Linked DNA regions of Homo sapiens. The protein of the gene in region 1 interacts with the protein of each later gene in a biochemical or structural test. Each region holds a gene or a part of one and is shown on either strand. Other genes may lie near its edges.

Region 1 (5,104 bases):
TCATGCCACTGCACTCCAGCCTGGGCGACAGAGCAAGACTCTGTCTCAAAATGAATAAATAAAAATAAAGCAATCTCAAAATACTAGCAATAAAGGATTATTAAGTAAACCATGACACATTTATAACATACTACAAATGATACAGAAAAGCGTGTATTGCCACAAAGAAGTGTTTGCCATAAATTGTTGAGAAAAGCATATTACAATGTGGTATGCAGGATTTGACCCAATTTTTACAAAGCAGCATATATATAAGTGTCTTTATAAACATGGATAAAATAGACTGAAATACAGTATATACTTTTTATCCTTTTATTTTTCAATTGTGCAGAAGGCCTCTTGGTGTTTTGTATTTTGTTTTTGAAATACATTCATTACAGAAAATTTGGATAATAAAGACTGTTTTAGGCTGGGCATGGTGACTCACGCCCGTAATCCCAGCACTTTGGGAGGCCAATGCTGGCGGGTCACCTGAAGTCAGAAGTTTGAAACCAGCCTGGCCAACGTGATGAAACTCCATCTCTACTAATGATACAAAAATGAGCTGGGTGCCTGTAATCCCAGCTACCCAGAAGCTGAGACAGAAAAATTGATTGAACCTAGGAGACAGAGGTTGCAGTGAGCCAAGATTGCGCCACTGCACTCCAGCAGATTGCGCACTGCTCTGTTGCTCTGGGCAACAGAGCAAGACTGACTCAAAAAAAAAAATGCGGTTCTCCTTCAAAAACCACAAGTTATCTATAGAGAAATAACTTGGTAGTTATGTAATTTTTAAATTTTTTCCTTCTCAGAAAAATAAAGGATAATTCATTCAGCAGTTATTGTTGGAGTACCAATTCTGAACTAGACTGTGCTTGGTTCCAGGTATAAAAAGAATGAGGTAGACACAGTCCCTGCCATCAAGCAGGGAGGTAGATACTATGGATACCTAATACTACTTGTTCATATAAAATGCACTATGCTTGCTTATAAACCATTTAAAAAATCACCTGACATCTCATGTCTCTTAAAGAACTACTATTACGACACATTTTGGAAAATACCCTTTCAGACATCTGTCTCTGCATATATGTACATACAGGTGTCCACATACCTCTTTTACTGTAGAAGGGATAATATGCTATGCAACTGCTAAGTAATTTGCTCTTTTCACTCAAAATTATGTTGTGGAACTGATTTTTTTTTTTTTTTTTGAGATGGAGCTGTGCTCTTGTTGCCCAGGCTGGAGTGCAATGGCGCGATCTCCAGCTCACCACAACCTCCGCCTCCCAGGTTCAAGCAATTCTCCTGCCTCAGCCTCCAGAGTAGCTGGGATTACAGGCATGTGCCACCACACCTGGTTAATTTTGTATTTTTATTAGAGACAGGGTTTCTCTGTATTGGTCAGGGTGGTCTCGAACTCCCAACCTCAGGTGATCCACCTGCCTTGGCCTCCCAAAGTGCTGGGATTATAGGCATGAGCCATTGGCCTTTTTTTTTTTTTTTTTTTTTTTTAAATAGAGACAGGGTCTTGGCTTGCTGCCTAGGCTGGCCTCAAACCTGGGCTCAAGTGATCCTTTGGCCTTAACCTCCCAAGTAGCTGGAACTATAGGCTGATGCCACCGTGCCTGGTGAGGAGCTGATTTTTTTTTTTTTTTTTGAGACTGAGCTTCACTCGTGTTATCCGGGCTGGAGTGCATTGGTGCAATCTTGGCTCGCTGCAACCTCTGCTTCTCGGGTTCAAGCGATTCTCCTGCCTCAGCCTCTCGAGTAGTTGGGACTATAGGCGTGCACCACCACACCCAACTGATTTTTGTATTTTTAGTAGAGACGGGGTTTCAACATGTTGGCCAGGCTGGTCTCGAACTTTTGACCTCAGGTGATCCTGCCTCAGCCTCCCAAAGTGCTGGGATTACAGGCTTGAGCCACCATGGCCCAGCCAAGAACTGATTTTTTAATGTTATCTGTAAAGATTTACATCTATCATTTTAAATGACCACCGATTCCATTATAAGAATACATCATCCCTTACTTAACAGTGGACCCAGTCAGGGAACAACATTTAACTTCTTTTCAGTCGTTTGCTATTATATACAATGCTCCAGTGAGTATCTTTGCATACATTTCTTCATGATTATAAAATAATCGTAAGGCCAGGCGTCGTGGCTCACGCCTGTAATTCCAGCACTTTGGGAGGCCAAGGCAGGTGGATCACCTGATGTCAGGAGTTCAAGACCGGCACCGCCAACATGGTGAAACCCCATCTCTACTAAAAATACAAAATTAGCTGGGCGTGGTGGCACACACCTATAATACCAGCTACTCGGGAGGCTGAGTCAGGAGAATCAGTTGAAGCTGGGAGGCAGAGACTGCAGTGAGCCAAGATCGTGCCATTGCATTCAGCCTGGGCAACAAGAGCAAAACTCCATCTCAAAAAAATAAAATAATCATAAGATGTATTCCTAAAAGTAGGTTTTCTGGGGGGAAATACACATTTGACATTTTTTTAACATCTTAGTTTTTGCATTTTTGTACTGTCTTCTCTAAAGGTACCAGTTTACGCTTCAGTCATGCATGAGAGTGCCCAGTTAGTTTCCATACCCTTAACATTTTTTTTTTTAAGAAATAGGCTGGTCTCAAACTCCTGGGTTTAAGCAATCCTCCCACCTCAGCCTCCCAAAGTGCTGGGATTACAGGTGTGAGCCTCTGTGCCTATCCTCCATACCCTTTATAACAATGGGTTTTTGTCTTAAATTTTTGCCAGTGTGATAGTTGTTTTAAAAAATAGTCTTTTTGACTAGGTGCGGTGGCTCATGCCTGTAATCCCAGGACTTTGGGGAGGCCAAGATGAGTGGATCACCTGAGGTCAGGAGTTTGAGACCAGCCTGGCCAACATGGTATAACCCAGTCTCTACTAAAAATAAAAAAATTAGTCTGGCATGGTGGTGCACGCCTGTAGTCCCAGCTACTCGGGAGGCTGAGGCACAAGACTCGCTTGAACCCAGGAGGCAGAGGTTACAGTAAGCGGAGATCTTCACACCAGTGCACTCCAGCCTGGGCAACAGAGCAAGACTGTCTCAAAAAAAAAAAAAAGTATACGTAAAAATAATAAAAAAAATTAAAAAATTAGCAGGGCATGGTAGCACGTGCCTGTAGTCCCAGCTATTCGGGAGGCTGAGGCAGGAGAATTGCTTGAGCCTGGGAGATGGAGGTTGCAGTGAGTCAAGATTGCGTCACTGCCCTCTAGCCTGGGCATCAGAGCAATATTCCATCTCAGAAAAAAATAGTCTTTTCAGTGAAAATTTTGTCATTTTTTTATGTGTATTTCTTTGGTTTTAGCCATATATATGTATTTTTTTTTTTACTATGTTTAATGTCAATTTGTGGGGTTTTTGTAAATTTTCTCTTTGATTCCCCTTCCCCTAACAGTGTTTTTGTTTGCAAGAACTTGAAAATGATTATAGTGACCTCTTATAATGAGGCCAGGCACAGTGGCTCACACCTGTAACTTTAGCACTTCAGGAGACTTAGGCAGGAAGATCACTTGAGGCCAGAATTTCAAGACCAGCCTGGGCAGCATGGGAAGACCCTATCTCAAAAAGAAATAATTTTGAAAAATAAATTGTGCAGTTTTTTCTAGTTTACCTTTCGGAAGCTTCTACTAGTCCCAAAGTTTGTTTTTTTTGTTTGTTTGTTTTAGTTAAAAAATACTTTATGGTGGCTGGGCGCGGTGGCTCACGTCTATAATCCCAGCACTTTGGGAGGCCGAGGCGGGAGGGTCACCTGAGGTCAGGAGTTCAAGACCAGCCTGGCCAATGTGGTGAAGCCCTGTCTACTAAAAATACAAAAATTAGCCAGGTGTGGTTGTGGGCACCTGTAATGCCAGCTACTTGGGAGGCTGAGGCAGGAGAATCGCTTGAACCCAGGAGGTGGAGGTTGCAGTGAGCTGAGATCGCGCCATTGCACTCCAGCCTGGGCAACAGGAGCGAAACTGTCTCTCAAAAAAAGAAGAAAAAAAAAAACTTTATGGCTAACAAATTGTAATAATCAGTTATCCGAACCCTCAGCAATTCATAATGTTTTTGCTAGTGGACATTCTTGCCTCACTGTTGATGGCTGCTGACTGAGGAGGGTGGTAGTTGGCTGAAGGTTGAGCTGGCTGTGGCAATTTCTTGAAATAAGACAACAAAGTTTGCCTGAGTAACTGAGTCTCCTTTTCACATAAAATTTCTCGATATTATATCATGCTGTTTGATAGCATTTTACTTACAGTATAACTTCTTTCAAAATTGGATTCAATCTCAAACCCTGCTACTGCTTTCTCAACTAAACTTATGGAGTAGTCTAAATCCTTTATTGTCGTTTTAACAATGTTCACAGCATCTTCACTAGGAGGAGATTCCATCTCAAGAAACCAGTTTATTTGCTCATCCATGAGAAGCAACTCCTTTGAGAGGCCCAGGCGGCCAGATAGATCATTTGAGGTCAGGAGTTTGAGACCACCCTGGCCAGCATGGTGAAACCTCGTCTCTACTAAAAATAAAAAATTTAGCTGGGCATGGTGGTACATGCCTGTAATCCTGGCTACTCGGGAGGGTGAGGCAGGAGAATCACTTGAACCTGAGAGATGGAGGTTGCAGTGAGCCAAAATTGTGCCACTGCCCTCCAGCCTGGGTAACAGAGTGAGGCTCAGTCTCAAAAAAAAGGAAGCAACTCCTCATCCACTCAAGTTTTACCATAAAGTTACAGCAATTCAGTTATATCTTTAAGCTCCATTTCTAATTCCAGTTCTCCTGCTATTTCCACCACATCTGCTGTTACTTGCCCCACTGAAGGTGGAGGTAGCAGTGAGCCCAGATTGTGCCATTGCACTCCAGCCTGGGTGACAGAGCGAGACCTTATCTCAAAAAAAAAAAAAAAATCTTAAGCAGCCACCCAATATATACTTCAGATTAAAAAAGAGCTGTTGGCCAGGTGCGGTGGCTCATGCGTGTAATCTCAGCACTTTGGGAGACTGAGGCAGGTGGATCACTTGAGGCCAGGAGTTTGACACCAGCCTGGCCAATAAGGTAAAACCCCGTCTCTACTAAAAATGCAAAAACTAGCCGGGCACAGTGGTGCATGC
Region 2 (3,500 bases), on another chromosome or scaffold:
ATTCATAAGAATCAGGAAACAATACATTTTTTGGCTGGCTTTTTGAGTTAAAAGTCAGTAATTTTGGAGTGAAAGGGAAGAAAGAGTTTTGTCGTGGGAGTCTCTTTGGAGTTTAGGTTTTCCATTTAGATGAGAAAAGTTTGTTACGTGATATGGATCCATGCAAGTTTGGAGAATGCTCTAGTAGACATTGGAAGCTCTTAGTTTCTATTATAATGAGAGTGAATAGACTGATTCATTTCTGTTGCCTTAGCATTGCCTTTCTACAAACTTAAACCGATTTCTAAACTTTAGCTATTGAACACACATGATCTTACATACCAAAGTGTTTTTAGCTTTACTGAGAGATATCAAATACGCTATAGCTGCAATAAAGGATATAAAAATCATTTTTTAGGCCATACGAGATGCAGAGCGTGTAAAGGAAATGAAACGAATGCATAAAGCTGTCCAGAAAGATCTGCCAAGACCATCAGAAGTAAGTGTTAGAATTTCTGGTTTAGGAAGTTTTAAGTTTCTTTTTATATGATTGCTGCGTTTTACATCATTCATAAAGACTATAAAACAAAATTTCATCTACTTTCTGGAATATAGCAAAGTAGTTCTCAAATCCAATCTTTAAAATGTTTCAGTAGTACCAGAAAGAATTTAGAAGGAAAAAAATGGAAATTGCTTTTGAAAATGTAAAACCGCTGTTTAATTCATGCTGTAACAGGTAATAACATTAATATATTATAGTGATATGTTTGGTAATTGTATTTGTTTTAAAATTTTAGGTAAATGAAACTATTCTAAGACCCTTAAATGTAGAACCGCCTTTAACAGATTTACAGAAAAGTGAAGAACTAATCAAAAAAGAAATGATCACAATGCTTCATTATGACCTTCTACATCACCCTTATGAACCATCTGGAAATAAAAAAGGCAAAACTGTAGGGTTTGGTACCAATAATTCAGAGCACATTACCTATCTGGAACATAATCCTTATGAAAAGTTCTCCAAAGAAGAGCTGAAAAAGGTATGATTGAGCTGGAATATTTCTTCTTGAGATTTAGGTAGTTGTTAGGTGCTGTGTATCATGGACAAATAATGAACTTATTTTTCCCTGTTGGTATTCATAAACAACTGAAATGTATGATTAGGAGATGCATGTTTAGATTAAGTGTTATGAAAAGGACATGCTTTAAATACCTCCATCCCCCGTGTTCAGTGTGATAGACCTTTAGCAAATAAACACCGCCAGGGTGTTTTTGGTTCATGGGTATTAATGGCTTCGTTGACAGTTGTTACAGTTGCCGTTTTCTGTATTCAGCTCTGCTATCTCTGAATAAAAATTAGATGCCTTTAGTACTTAAACATCACTTATTTAGAATAATATGAAGAGGTGAGAGAGACTAATATAAAAATGTTTATAGATTAAACCTTTTAGCTATTGAAAGGAAGGAAGTATTTTTTTTACTGAATATATTCCCCTCACATGATTTCCCCCTACTCTTTTGGATAAGGACATGAAGAAATGATTTCTTATATGAAGTCTGTATCTGGTCTTTTCTTCTACATGCATTTTATTCCTTCTGTTTTGACAGAGCAAACAACTGTGATTGTAAATAGAAATCTCCATAATTGTATAAGAAGATACAGTGGGTCTCATCGTTGGAAGCAGAGTGGTCATTAGCTTAAAAGTCTTTTTTTCTTTAGCCTTCAGCCCTGAGGAGCAGTGATAGACCTATGGATTTGGAATGAGCTGCTGTATACTTAGGATAAAACAAACAAGATTCTTACAAACTCTCCTGTCTTCTCTCCTGCATTCTTCCTCTTTCTTCGCTTTTCACAATTTCTTACTTTGTGTTTTCTTTATTGCATAAGTAATACATTATTTATTATAGGATTTTTAGAAAATAGAGAAAGGAAGGAGGGTTTCGATTTATATTTCAATAACTTGTCCCTGATTTCAGAATAACTGAGTCACTCATTTTTTAGTAAGTGCAGTAGGGAAACTAACATCTGTTGAGTTGCCTACTCTGTCGAGCACATTTAATCATTGAACTGGGATTGAGAATCAGGCTACGAAATTGATACTTGCACAGTTTCCTCTTTTGAAAGTGAAAATATGAGGGGAAGAGGAATTTAGGAAATAAATTTTCCTAAATTGTATGTATGGAAACCTAAAACAAGGATCACATTGTTGCTTTTGGAGATTCTGTAGAGGGTAAACCCTAACACAATTTTTGAAAAATAATAATTCTAAGTATTGGTTTGTAATTGTTTGAAACAAAGTAGCTTAAATATTCTCTCATATTTTATCTGTGTATATCTCTCTTTGTTCCAAAAAGAATTTGAAGCAGCTATTTAGTTAGCAGATTATTTATGGATAGTTTAAAGATAACTTAGCCATATTCTCTCGTAATGATTATAAGATCTGAACTTGTAAATTTTTACTCTGTGCAGTTTCAGAGTGAAATAGCATTTCTCTTTTAATAAACTGTCAGATTTTCTTTTTCTTTAATATACTTTAAGATATGTTAACATTGATTTGTTTCCATTATTTCCCTTAAGGTATTAAGTGTCCATTTTTTCTTCTATAGAGATGATTTTCCGTTTCTTTTGTTAAAATTTTTTGTTTATCAATCATTTCTCTTGATTTTGTAGATTTTGATGTGTTTATTTTCATTATTACTGGAAAGATTGAAAGCCTTCTGTAAGGCACAGAAGGTGGTTCCCAGTTTTTCATAAGCCATGAAGCAAAGGGCTGGGAAAAAATTCATATGCTTATGGAATTCTGTGTGTCTGGCATTGGGCTAGGCTCTATAGTATATTGTTCACTTAATCCTAATAACAAACACATCTGATCTAAGGTCAGCATCATCATTGCTTGGAAAGCTGTTTTTCAGCTTTCCAGGCTGAAAAAGCCCTGAGAAATGGGCTCAGATAAATTAAGCAAGCTCAAAGAGCTGCTTCAATGGTAAAGCTGTGATCTGAACCCAGGCCTGTCCAGCTTTCCCTCTCATTCTGTCATTTTACACTATTTTCTTTAGTAGTGAACTAAACTGGTTTATGATCTATCATCTAATTCGTGCCCCAGTCTCATTATCTGGCAATGTCAGGGCATTCCTTCAGGATGAGAAAAATGCCATGTGACAAAAAGATGCCTAGCTCCCCTTTACCATCACGTGAGGTCCTGCACACATGGTGGAGTGGGAGAGTGGAAGGGGCACACCCAGTGGTGCCATTTGTATTCTGCCTCATCTGCCTACTAACGATGTGGTCTTAACAAGTGGTTGAATCTCTATGAGCCTTAGTTTCATTAGCTTTTTTTTTTTTTTTTTTTTTTTTGAGACTGAGTCTCACTCTGTTGCACAGGCTGGGGTGCAGTGGCACGATCCCAGCTCACTGCAGCCTCCACCTCCTGGGTTCAAGGGATTCTTGTGCCTCAGCCTCCTGAGTAGCTAGGATTACAGGCATGTGCCACTACGTCCTACTAATTTTTACATTTTTAGTA
Region 3 (4,146 bases), on another chromosome or scaffold:
AGAGGCAGACGGACCATGAGGTCAGGAGTTCGAGACCAGCCTGGCCAACACAGTGAAACCCCGTCTCTACTAAAAATATAAAAAAAATTTAGCCAGGTGTTGTGGCACGCACCTGTAGTCCCAGCTACTCAGGAGGCTGAGGCTTTCCTCCCTTTCTGGGCACTCCTCCTGGATTTTCTTTGCAGGTTTATCTTCTACCCCGGCCATTAAGTATCCAAGACTCCATCCTAGGGCTTCTTCATTCATTTATGCACAGAGCTTTAATAAGTACTGATTTATAGATGACTCCCTGATTTTTATCTCTACCCTAGGCCTTGACTCTGCGATCCAGATCACTACTTCCCATTTTACACTTCCTAAACGCCTGAAAGGCACCTGTAACTCAGCAGGTACAAAACCAAACTTCTAAATTTTCCTAACTCATTAAATGACATCTATCCAGCTATGCAATTCAGAAACCTACAAGTCATCTTTAGCAATTCCTTCCCCTATCCCACAGATCCTGCCCATCTTATTTCCTAAATATCCCTTGAATCTGTCTATTTCTCCTTATCTCTATAACCACTTCCCAACATTTCTTGCTTGCATTACTCCACTACTCTCATCCACTCGTCTCCTTCAATTGTCCCTATTACATCTAGACTGAATCTGAAAATATAAAGCTGATCACCTCACTTGGATTAAGTATTTCAATGGTTTCTGATTGCTCTTAAGATAAAGACAAAACTTCAAGGCCCTGTGTGATCCAGCCTCTTACTACCTCACCAGTCTCACTTCACACTACTCTATGCTTTTTCTTTCCTTGAAAGAGCTATATCCCTCAGGCCACTGGCTCTTTACAAATACTATTTCCTGTCTTGAAAAAGCTATTCCTTGACTCCTAATATCTTCCAGATCTCAACTATCACCTTTTCAAAAGTTTACCTCAATTTCTCTAAATCCTTCTTTAGTAAGCATTCATAGTGTCAAGTACAAGTGTCATGGCACTTATCCAGTTTCAATATCAGGTTTTATTTATACAGTTATTTATTGTTCGTCTCCCAAACTAGACTGTAGCTCAAAAAGGGCAACGAGGTTAAGTCTCTCTGTGTTACACAGCTGGAACCCCAATGCTGTTACACAGCAAGTGCTCAATATATATCTTTTTTTTTTTTTTTTTTTTTTGAGAAGGAGTCTCGGGCTCTGTCACCCAGGCTGGAGTGCAGTGGCGCGATCTCTGCTCACTGCAAGCTCCGCCTCCCGGGTTCTCGCCATTCTCCTGCCTCAGCCTCCCGAATAGCTGGGACTACAGGCGCCTGCCACCACGCCCGGCTAATTTTTTGTATTTTTCATAGAGACGGTGTTTCACCGTGTTAGCCAGGATGGTCTCGATCTCCTGACCTCGTGATCCGCCCGCCTCGGCCTCCTAAAATGCTGGGATTACAGGCGTGAGCCATCGCGCCCGGCCCCAGGTGCTCAATATATATTTGATGAATGATGGAATGCAAAAAAAAATTCCAGTTTCCCCAAATTGGAGTTAGACGATCTTTAAAATCTCACTAATTCTAAATTTCGGTTACCATAAATATAAAAGCAAAGCATCGGCTGGGCGCGGTGGCTCACGCCGGTAATCCCAGCACTATGGGAGGCAGAGGCGGACGGATCATGAGGTCAGGAGTTCGAGACCAGCCTGGCCAACACAGTGAAACCCCATCTCTACTAAAAATACAAAAAAAATTAGCGGGGCGTGGTGGCACACGCCTGTAGTCCCAGCTACTCGGGAGGCTGAGGCAGGAGAATCATTTGAACCCAGGAGGCGGAGCTTGCAGTGAGCCGAGACCGCGCCACTGCACTCCAGCCTGAGCGAAAGAGCGAGACTCCGTTTCAAAACAAAAACAAAGCATCAATTCCTGATCATGACCCACTGTAACTTCAAGCAAGCTACAAGAATCTATACTAGGGTTCAGACCTTTGAGGCTGACAGCGAGCTTTGAGTTTGATGACAGTACCTAAAATATATTAAGTGTACTCAGGAACTGGCCAAGCATGGGGTGGGGCTTGTCAGGAAACTGGTATTTCTTTCTTCTATTTGTAGTGAATAAGATGCTCAATAGACGACTTTTACTCCTCGTCAATGGTCGCATAACTGTCTCTTTTTAGACACTTATGAAATTGTCTGAACTTCCTCCTCTACTTCTCCAACTCCCAGAAGAGTGAAGGTAACAAATGTTATGTCCAAACCACGGTTTGTTCCCAGACCCTGGTTTCCAATGCCCACCTCTTTTCCAAGAAGTCCAAAGAGACGCCCCTCATCGCAAAGGAAGTGCTACCGTGCTGCCTCGATGTCCCCCTTGGGTGCCATCCCTGAAACATCGAACCTCCCATACCTCTTCTCCAGCCGTCCCCCTCATCCTCGTTCCCCGCCTACCCTCTCTTCAACTTCATTCATTCATCCAACATTCGCTGGGGGATTTCTACATTGACACGCCCCGGACAGAAGCCTGGGGTAAAGATGATCAGGAACACGTTCCCTCCCGCTAAGCGGCTTGGCAGAGTAAGAGGCATCCCAAAACCTAAGCAACCGGGACACGCGCCCACCTCCCCGCCTCTCCAGGCCGGGTCAGGTCGACCCCCCAACCTCCTGACCCCCTTCCTGCGACAATTAGGCTTTCCCGCTAGTCTGTCTGGCTCCCTGGCTCTTCCATCTGGCTCCCTGGCTAGTCCGACTCCCCTCTCCCCGCAAGAACTTCATTGGCCCGCCAGCCAGCTCTCACCTCACGCAGAAAACACGGGACACAGCGCGGACCTCGGCGTGCAGACTAAGCGCGCTTCTCGCGATACTCGGGAACTCCTGGGGCGAGAAGGGCCCGCAGCGTTTGGCGCCAAATCCGTGCGGGGGGCTGGGCGGAGCCTGCAAAACCCGCCTCTCAGGTTCCGCCCAGCACGCCGGTCCCGCCTTCGGTCCCACAATTTCCGCCCTACTGAATTCTTCAGAGGAACTCAGTTAAGCCTCCTTATTTGCATAAAGTTAATACTTGTTATTCTGGGGTTTTTCTTTTTTTTTTTTCTTGAGACTAAGTCTCGCTCTATCACTCAGGCTGGAGAGCAGTGATTCGATCTCGGCTGACTACAGTCTCTACCTCCCGGGCTGAAACGATCCTCCCACCTCAGCCTCCCTTCCCCGACTAACACCACCACACCGAATTTTTGTTTTAATGGGTTTTTGTTTGTTTGTTTGTTTGTTTTGCAAAGACGGGGATTAGTTGCCCAGGCTGGTGTCGAACTCCTTAGCTCAAGCGATCTTCCCACCTCAGCTTCCCAAAGTGCTGGGATTACAGGCGTGAGCCACTGTGCCCGGCACTTTAAACCTTGGAAATAGGTCTCGGTTTTTGGAAAACTGAGTTGTGGGAGGAGGAAAAAGGACAGAGGCAAGCAATAGTGAATAAGAAATTACCGCTTCTTCAGAGTTCATAGCAGAATGCTTCGAACTCAGAGTTTTATGAATTGTTTATTGAATAATAAGCTGAGAAAAGAGGTGGTAAAGAGAGGAAAAATAGGGCTGAACATAGACACTGGCCAGGTGCGGTGTGGCTCGCCTGTAATCCCAGCACTTTGGGAGGCCCAGGCAGGCGAATGGCTTGAGCCCAGAAGTTGAAGGCGGCAGTGACTAGGATCGCACTGCTGGCGATCCAGCTGGAGATCCAGTCTGGGTGACAGTGAGATCTTGTCGCAAAAAAAAAAAAAAAAAAAAAAAAAAAAGCGAGAGAGTGTGAATGTAAACAAAAAAAAATGTCAAAAATATGTTACTTGGGGCCGGGTGCAGTGGCTCACGCCTGTAATCCCAGCACTTTGGGAGGCCGAGGCGGGCAGATCACGAGGTCAGGAATTCGAGACCAGCCTAGCCAACGTGGTGAAACCCCATCTCTACTAAAAATACAAAAATTAGCCGGGCGTGGTGGCGCGCACCTGTAATTCCAGCTACTTAGGAGGCTGAGGCAGGAGTATCACTTGAACCTGGGAGGCAGAGGTTGCAGTGAGCTGAGATCATGCCATTGCACTCCGGCCTGGGCGACGGAGCAAGACTCTGTCTCAAAAAAAAAAAAAGTTATTTGGTCAGACTTGGTGGCTCATGCCTGTAATCTTAGCACTTTGAGAGGCTGACGCAGG
Region 4 (3,500 bases), on another chromosome or scaffold:
CCATTTCCCACTCCTGGTTTGATTTTCCACTTTTGGTATGATTTTCTGACATGTAGCTTTCAATATTACTTTGTGCATACTCTGGATTTTTTTTTCCAATCTGCAGCTGTATTCTTCAGGACTTGTGGAATGTGAGGATCAGGATCCACTTAATCCTGATAGAAGTTTTGATGTGGAATCAGTAAAGAAAGAAATCCAGAGAGGAAGGAAGTTGGTAAGTGTAAATGATGTTATTTCTTATACTGGATGAACAGACCCTCAAGGAATGCATTCCAAAGGAGTCTATTTGACTGATACACCAGGGATAGAGAAGCATCTTGGAGAGCTGGAAGAAGTAGGAACTGTATTGGAAACCTCAATTCAACTTAACATTTAATTTTTTTTTTTTTTTTTTTGAGACGGAGTTTTGCTCTTGTTGCCCAGGCTAGAGTGCAGTGACACGGTCTCAGCTCACTGCAACCTCCGCCTCCTGGGTTCAAGCGATTCTCCTGCCTCAGCCTCCCGAGTAGCTAGGATTACAGGCACGGGCCACCATGCTCGGCAAATTTTTGTATTTTTAGTAGAGACAGGGTTTCACCATGTTGGCCAGGCTGGTCGCGAACTCCTGACCTCAGGTGATCTGCCTGCCTTGGCTTCCCAAAGTGCTGGGATTACAGGTGTGAGCCACCACGCCCGGCCAACATTTAATATTTTAAAATAAACTACCATATACTTCACCAGTAAAGTGATCTGAGTTAGAATGCTTTTGCTGTAAGTAGAAGAAAGCTCAAGTCAAACAGACTTTTACAAAGAGGATACTTACTTTTTCACTTGATCAGAGAAAACACCTGCTTTCCAAGTTGGTTGATTGAGTGGCTTGATAATGTCATCAGGGGCCCAGGTTCTTCCTCTCTGGCCTCCTGTCCCCAACATCAGCTGGTCCCATTGTGGTCATAGGGTGGCCGCAGGCAGCAACTGAAGCATCAGGCTTTCTTGTTCATACCCAGTGAAAGACAAAGGTCATCCATACACATGGAATAAGCCCCCTTCTGAAAGTTTCATTAGGTTGCACCCCTCTTTCTGCACCAACTGCTGGGGGTGGCCATAACTAATCAGGGGTCAGCTCCTCATGGGTCATAAGGGGGCTATTCAAGGAGGAAGAAATGCTGAGAAGTCATTCCACTGGGCTTATTGCAGCGACATCCTCTCAAGGACCCTTCACATCTTAGCAAGCAGGACAGCAAGTGTGAGCACCTCACATTCTGACTACAACCACAGGGTTAATAACCAGGGACAAATGTATAGTTAGTCTTTGCAAGGCATCAGCATCAGCAGCATCCTGTGGTAGGTGTGTTACATACATTGCTCTAGGTAAACTCCCAGCTATAGGTAAAATGATGCCCATTTTAATCGAAGAAATGGAAAGTGCAGGGTGAAAGGCAACAGTCCAGATGGAATTCTGCAAATTATGCTATCTTAGGCAGTGTACACAATACTGTAGTAGGTCCTGAAGCAAGCCATAAAAATGGACTGTGTGTGGCCCGGGCATGGTGCTGCATGCCTCTAATCCCAGCACTTTGGGAAGCCAAGGCAGTTGAGGACTGCTTGAGCCCAGGAATTTGAGACCAACCTGGGCAATATAGTGGGACCCTGTCTTTACCAAAAAAGAAAAAAAAATTAGCCCGACACAGTGGCATATACCTGTAGTCCCAGCTACTTGGGAGGCTGAGGTAGGAGGATTGGGTGAGCCTGGAAAGTCGAGGCTGCAGTGAGCTGTGATCACACCACTGTACTCCAGCCTGGGCAACAGAGTGAGACTCTGTCTCAAATTAAAAAAAAAAAAAAAGAGTGTGTGGATCCTGCTCTCAATGTCTATGCTATTACTAATTAATACTTGGCAAGACTGGCTGCTGACATCATTAGTGCTGACAATGCCACATCCCTAGGATTTTGGGTGTGATGAGATGGGTGAACTGATTAGAAAGTAGCAGACAGACCTCAACTGGAATATTTTTTTGCTCTTCACTAATTGGATTTGAGTGGGGAGACACAGAGTTAAAGAAATCTCTGTGAAATTCTAGTAGCCATCCAGTTATGAAGAGACCCAGGCTGAGAAATGAGGGCAGTTGATTGGAGGCATAATATTTGGGGGAAAGCAGGTACCTGAGGGTTTCTGCGGACCTTGGGATGCAGACTTCCCTACTGGGAAGGCTTTGGGATGGGTTGGAAGTGGAGGATAAAGGAGAGAAGAGAGGAAAGTCACCTGAGGTAATAGTTACCCTCTCACAGCATTTATGGAACTCTTGGACTATGTGGGCAGATACATGGCACACACCCAGGGTGGGGACAGGCCAGTGCTGTGGTATTTTCAGTAAGCTGGGCAAGTACCTTGAGGGTGAGCAGCAGGGGCCCTCAGCAAGCAGGCTCCTCCCTAGGATTCAGACTACCAATCTGACAGAGCCACATGGACATCCAATAGCATTTCAGAGTAAAGTGGCCAAAAAAGTACAGTTCCATCTCCTATACACACACACACACACACACACACACACACACACACACACACACACACATTCTCCATCTAAATCTGCTCATAAAAACAGCACTATCATTATCCATTTGCCCAAGCCAGAAGTCTAAGGACTCTCTTTTCCTCGTCAACCTCCCAGCCCAACACCAAGCCCATGGGCACGAACTCCTAGGTGCATCTTGCATTCATCCACCCACTTCTCTCAGCGTCAGTAATCCACCATAGCGGAGTCACCCATCTTGTTCTCTAAAGCGAGTACTGACACTCGCCCGACTGTCTCTCCTGCCATCCCTACCCCAGCCCGTAGTTCTCCACCCAGCAGCAGCCCAGCAGCCTGAGTGATCTTTCAATAATGTTAATCAGTTTATGTTCCCCGTGCAGAAAGATAAAACCCAACTCCTTACTCTGGCATGTAAGTCCTACGTGACCCAGCCCTTACTTACCCCTTTGATCATCCTGAGACTTCCCTGTGCCCACTTCGCTGCTCCAACAGCACTGGCCATCTGTCTTGTCCTCGCTGTAGCTTGCCAATGGGGAAGCTCATTCTTGCGGCCAAGACCCAAGGCCCTCTGCTTAGAATGTCTTTCCTCCTCCTTTTTGCATCTGGGAGCTCTTACTATTATTCAGATCTCAGCTTCCATATCACCTCCTTAGAGGTGACCCATTTTACTAACTGCCCAGTCTGAAGTAGGGACCCAGTGACACTGTCACTTCACCCTATTTTAATTCGATATAATGTGTATATAACTTTGTGAGACGTTTTAAACTTTGCTTTATTTGATCATTGTACCTTGTCTCCAATAGAATGTAAGCTTCACGTGGACAGGCATCTTTTCTGCTTTGTCCACTACTGTTTTCCCTTATCCTAAAACCATGCCTGCCACATCATAGCTACTGCATGCTAAATAAATACTATATACTCATGTATTTTTAAATGAATAAATGTTTATTAGCCATTTGTATTTTTTCTTCTGTAATTTGCCAGTTACCA

The links.
Region 2: the proteins of RPA2 (region 1) and CDC5L form a complex in vitro, tested with the Homo sapiens proteins (one study listed by BioGRID).
Region 3: the proteins of RPA2 (region 1) and TIPIN interact in a biophysical measurement, tested with the Homo sapiens proteins (one study listed by IntAct).
Region 4: the proteins of RPA2 (region 1) and PHF11 form a complex in vitro, tested with the Homo sapiens proteins (one study listed by BioGRID).

What each region holds. Positions count from the first base shown.
Region 1 is NC_000001.11:27,900,255-27,905,358, reverse strand, and holds part of RPA2 (replication protein A 32 kDa subunit), read left to right. Parts: intron 1-5,104. UniProt on the Homo sapiens protein: As part of the heterotrimeric replication protein A complex (RPA/RP-A), binds and stabilizes single-stranded DNA intermediates that form during DNA replication or upon DNA stress.
Region 2 is NC_000006.12:44,425,706-44,429,205, forward strand, and holds part of CDC5L (cell division cycle 5-like protein), read left to right. Parts: intron 1-397; coding exon 398-478; intron 479-776; coding exon 777-1,019; intron 1,020-3,500.
Region 3 is NC_000015.10:66,353,886-66,358,031, forward strand, and holds the start of TIPIN (TIMELESS-interacting protein), read right to left. Parts: upstream 2,801-4,146; 5' UTR 2,754-2,800; exon of another isoform or gene 2,258-2,753; intron 237-2,257; exon of another isoform or gene 113-236; intron 1-112.
Region 4 is NC_000013.11:49,512,953-49,516,452, forward strand, and holds part of PHF11 (PHD finger protein 11), read left to right. Parts: intron 1-106; coding exon 107-214; intron 215-3,500. Other genes in the region: SETDB2-PHF11 protein, read left to right, coding at 107-214. UniProt on the Homo sapiens protein: Positive regulator of Th1-type cytokine gene expression.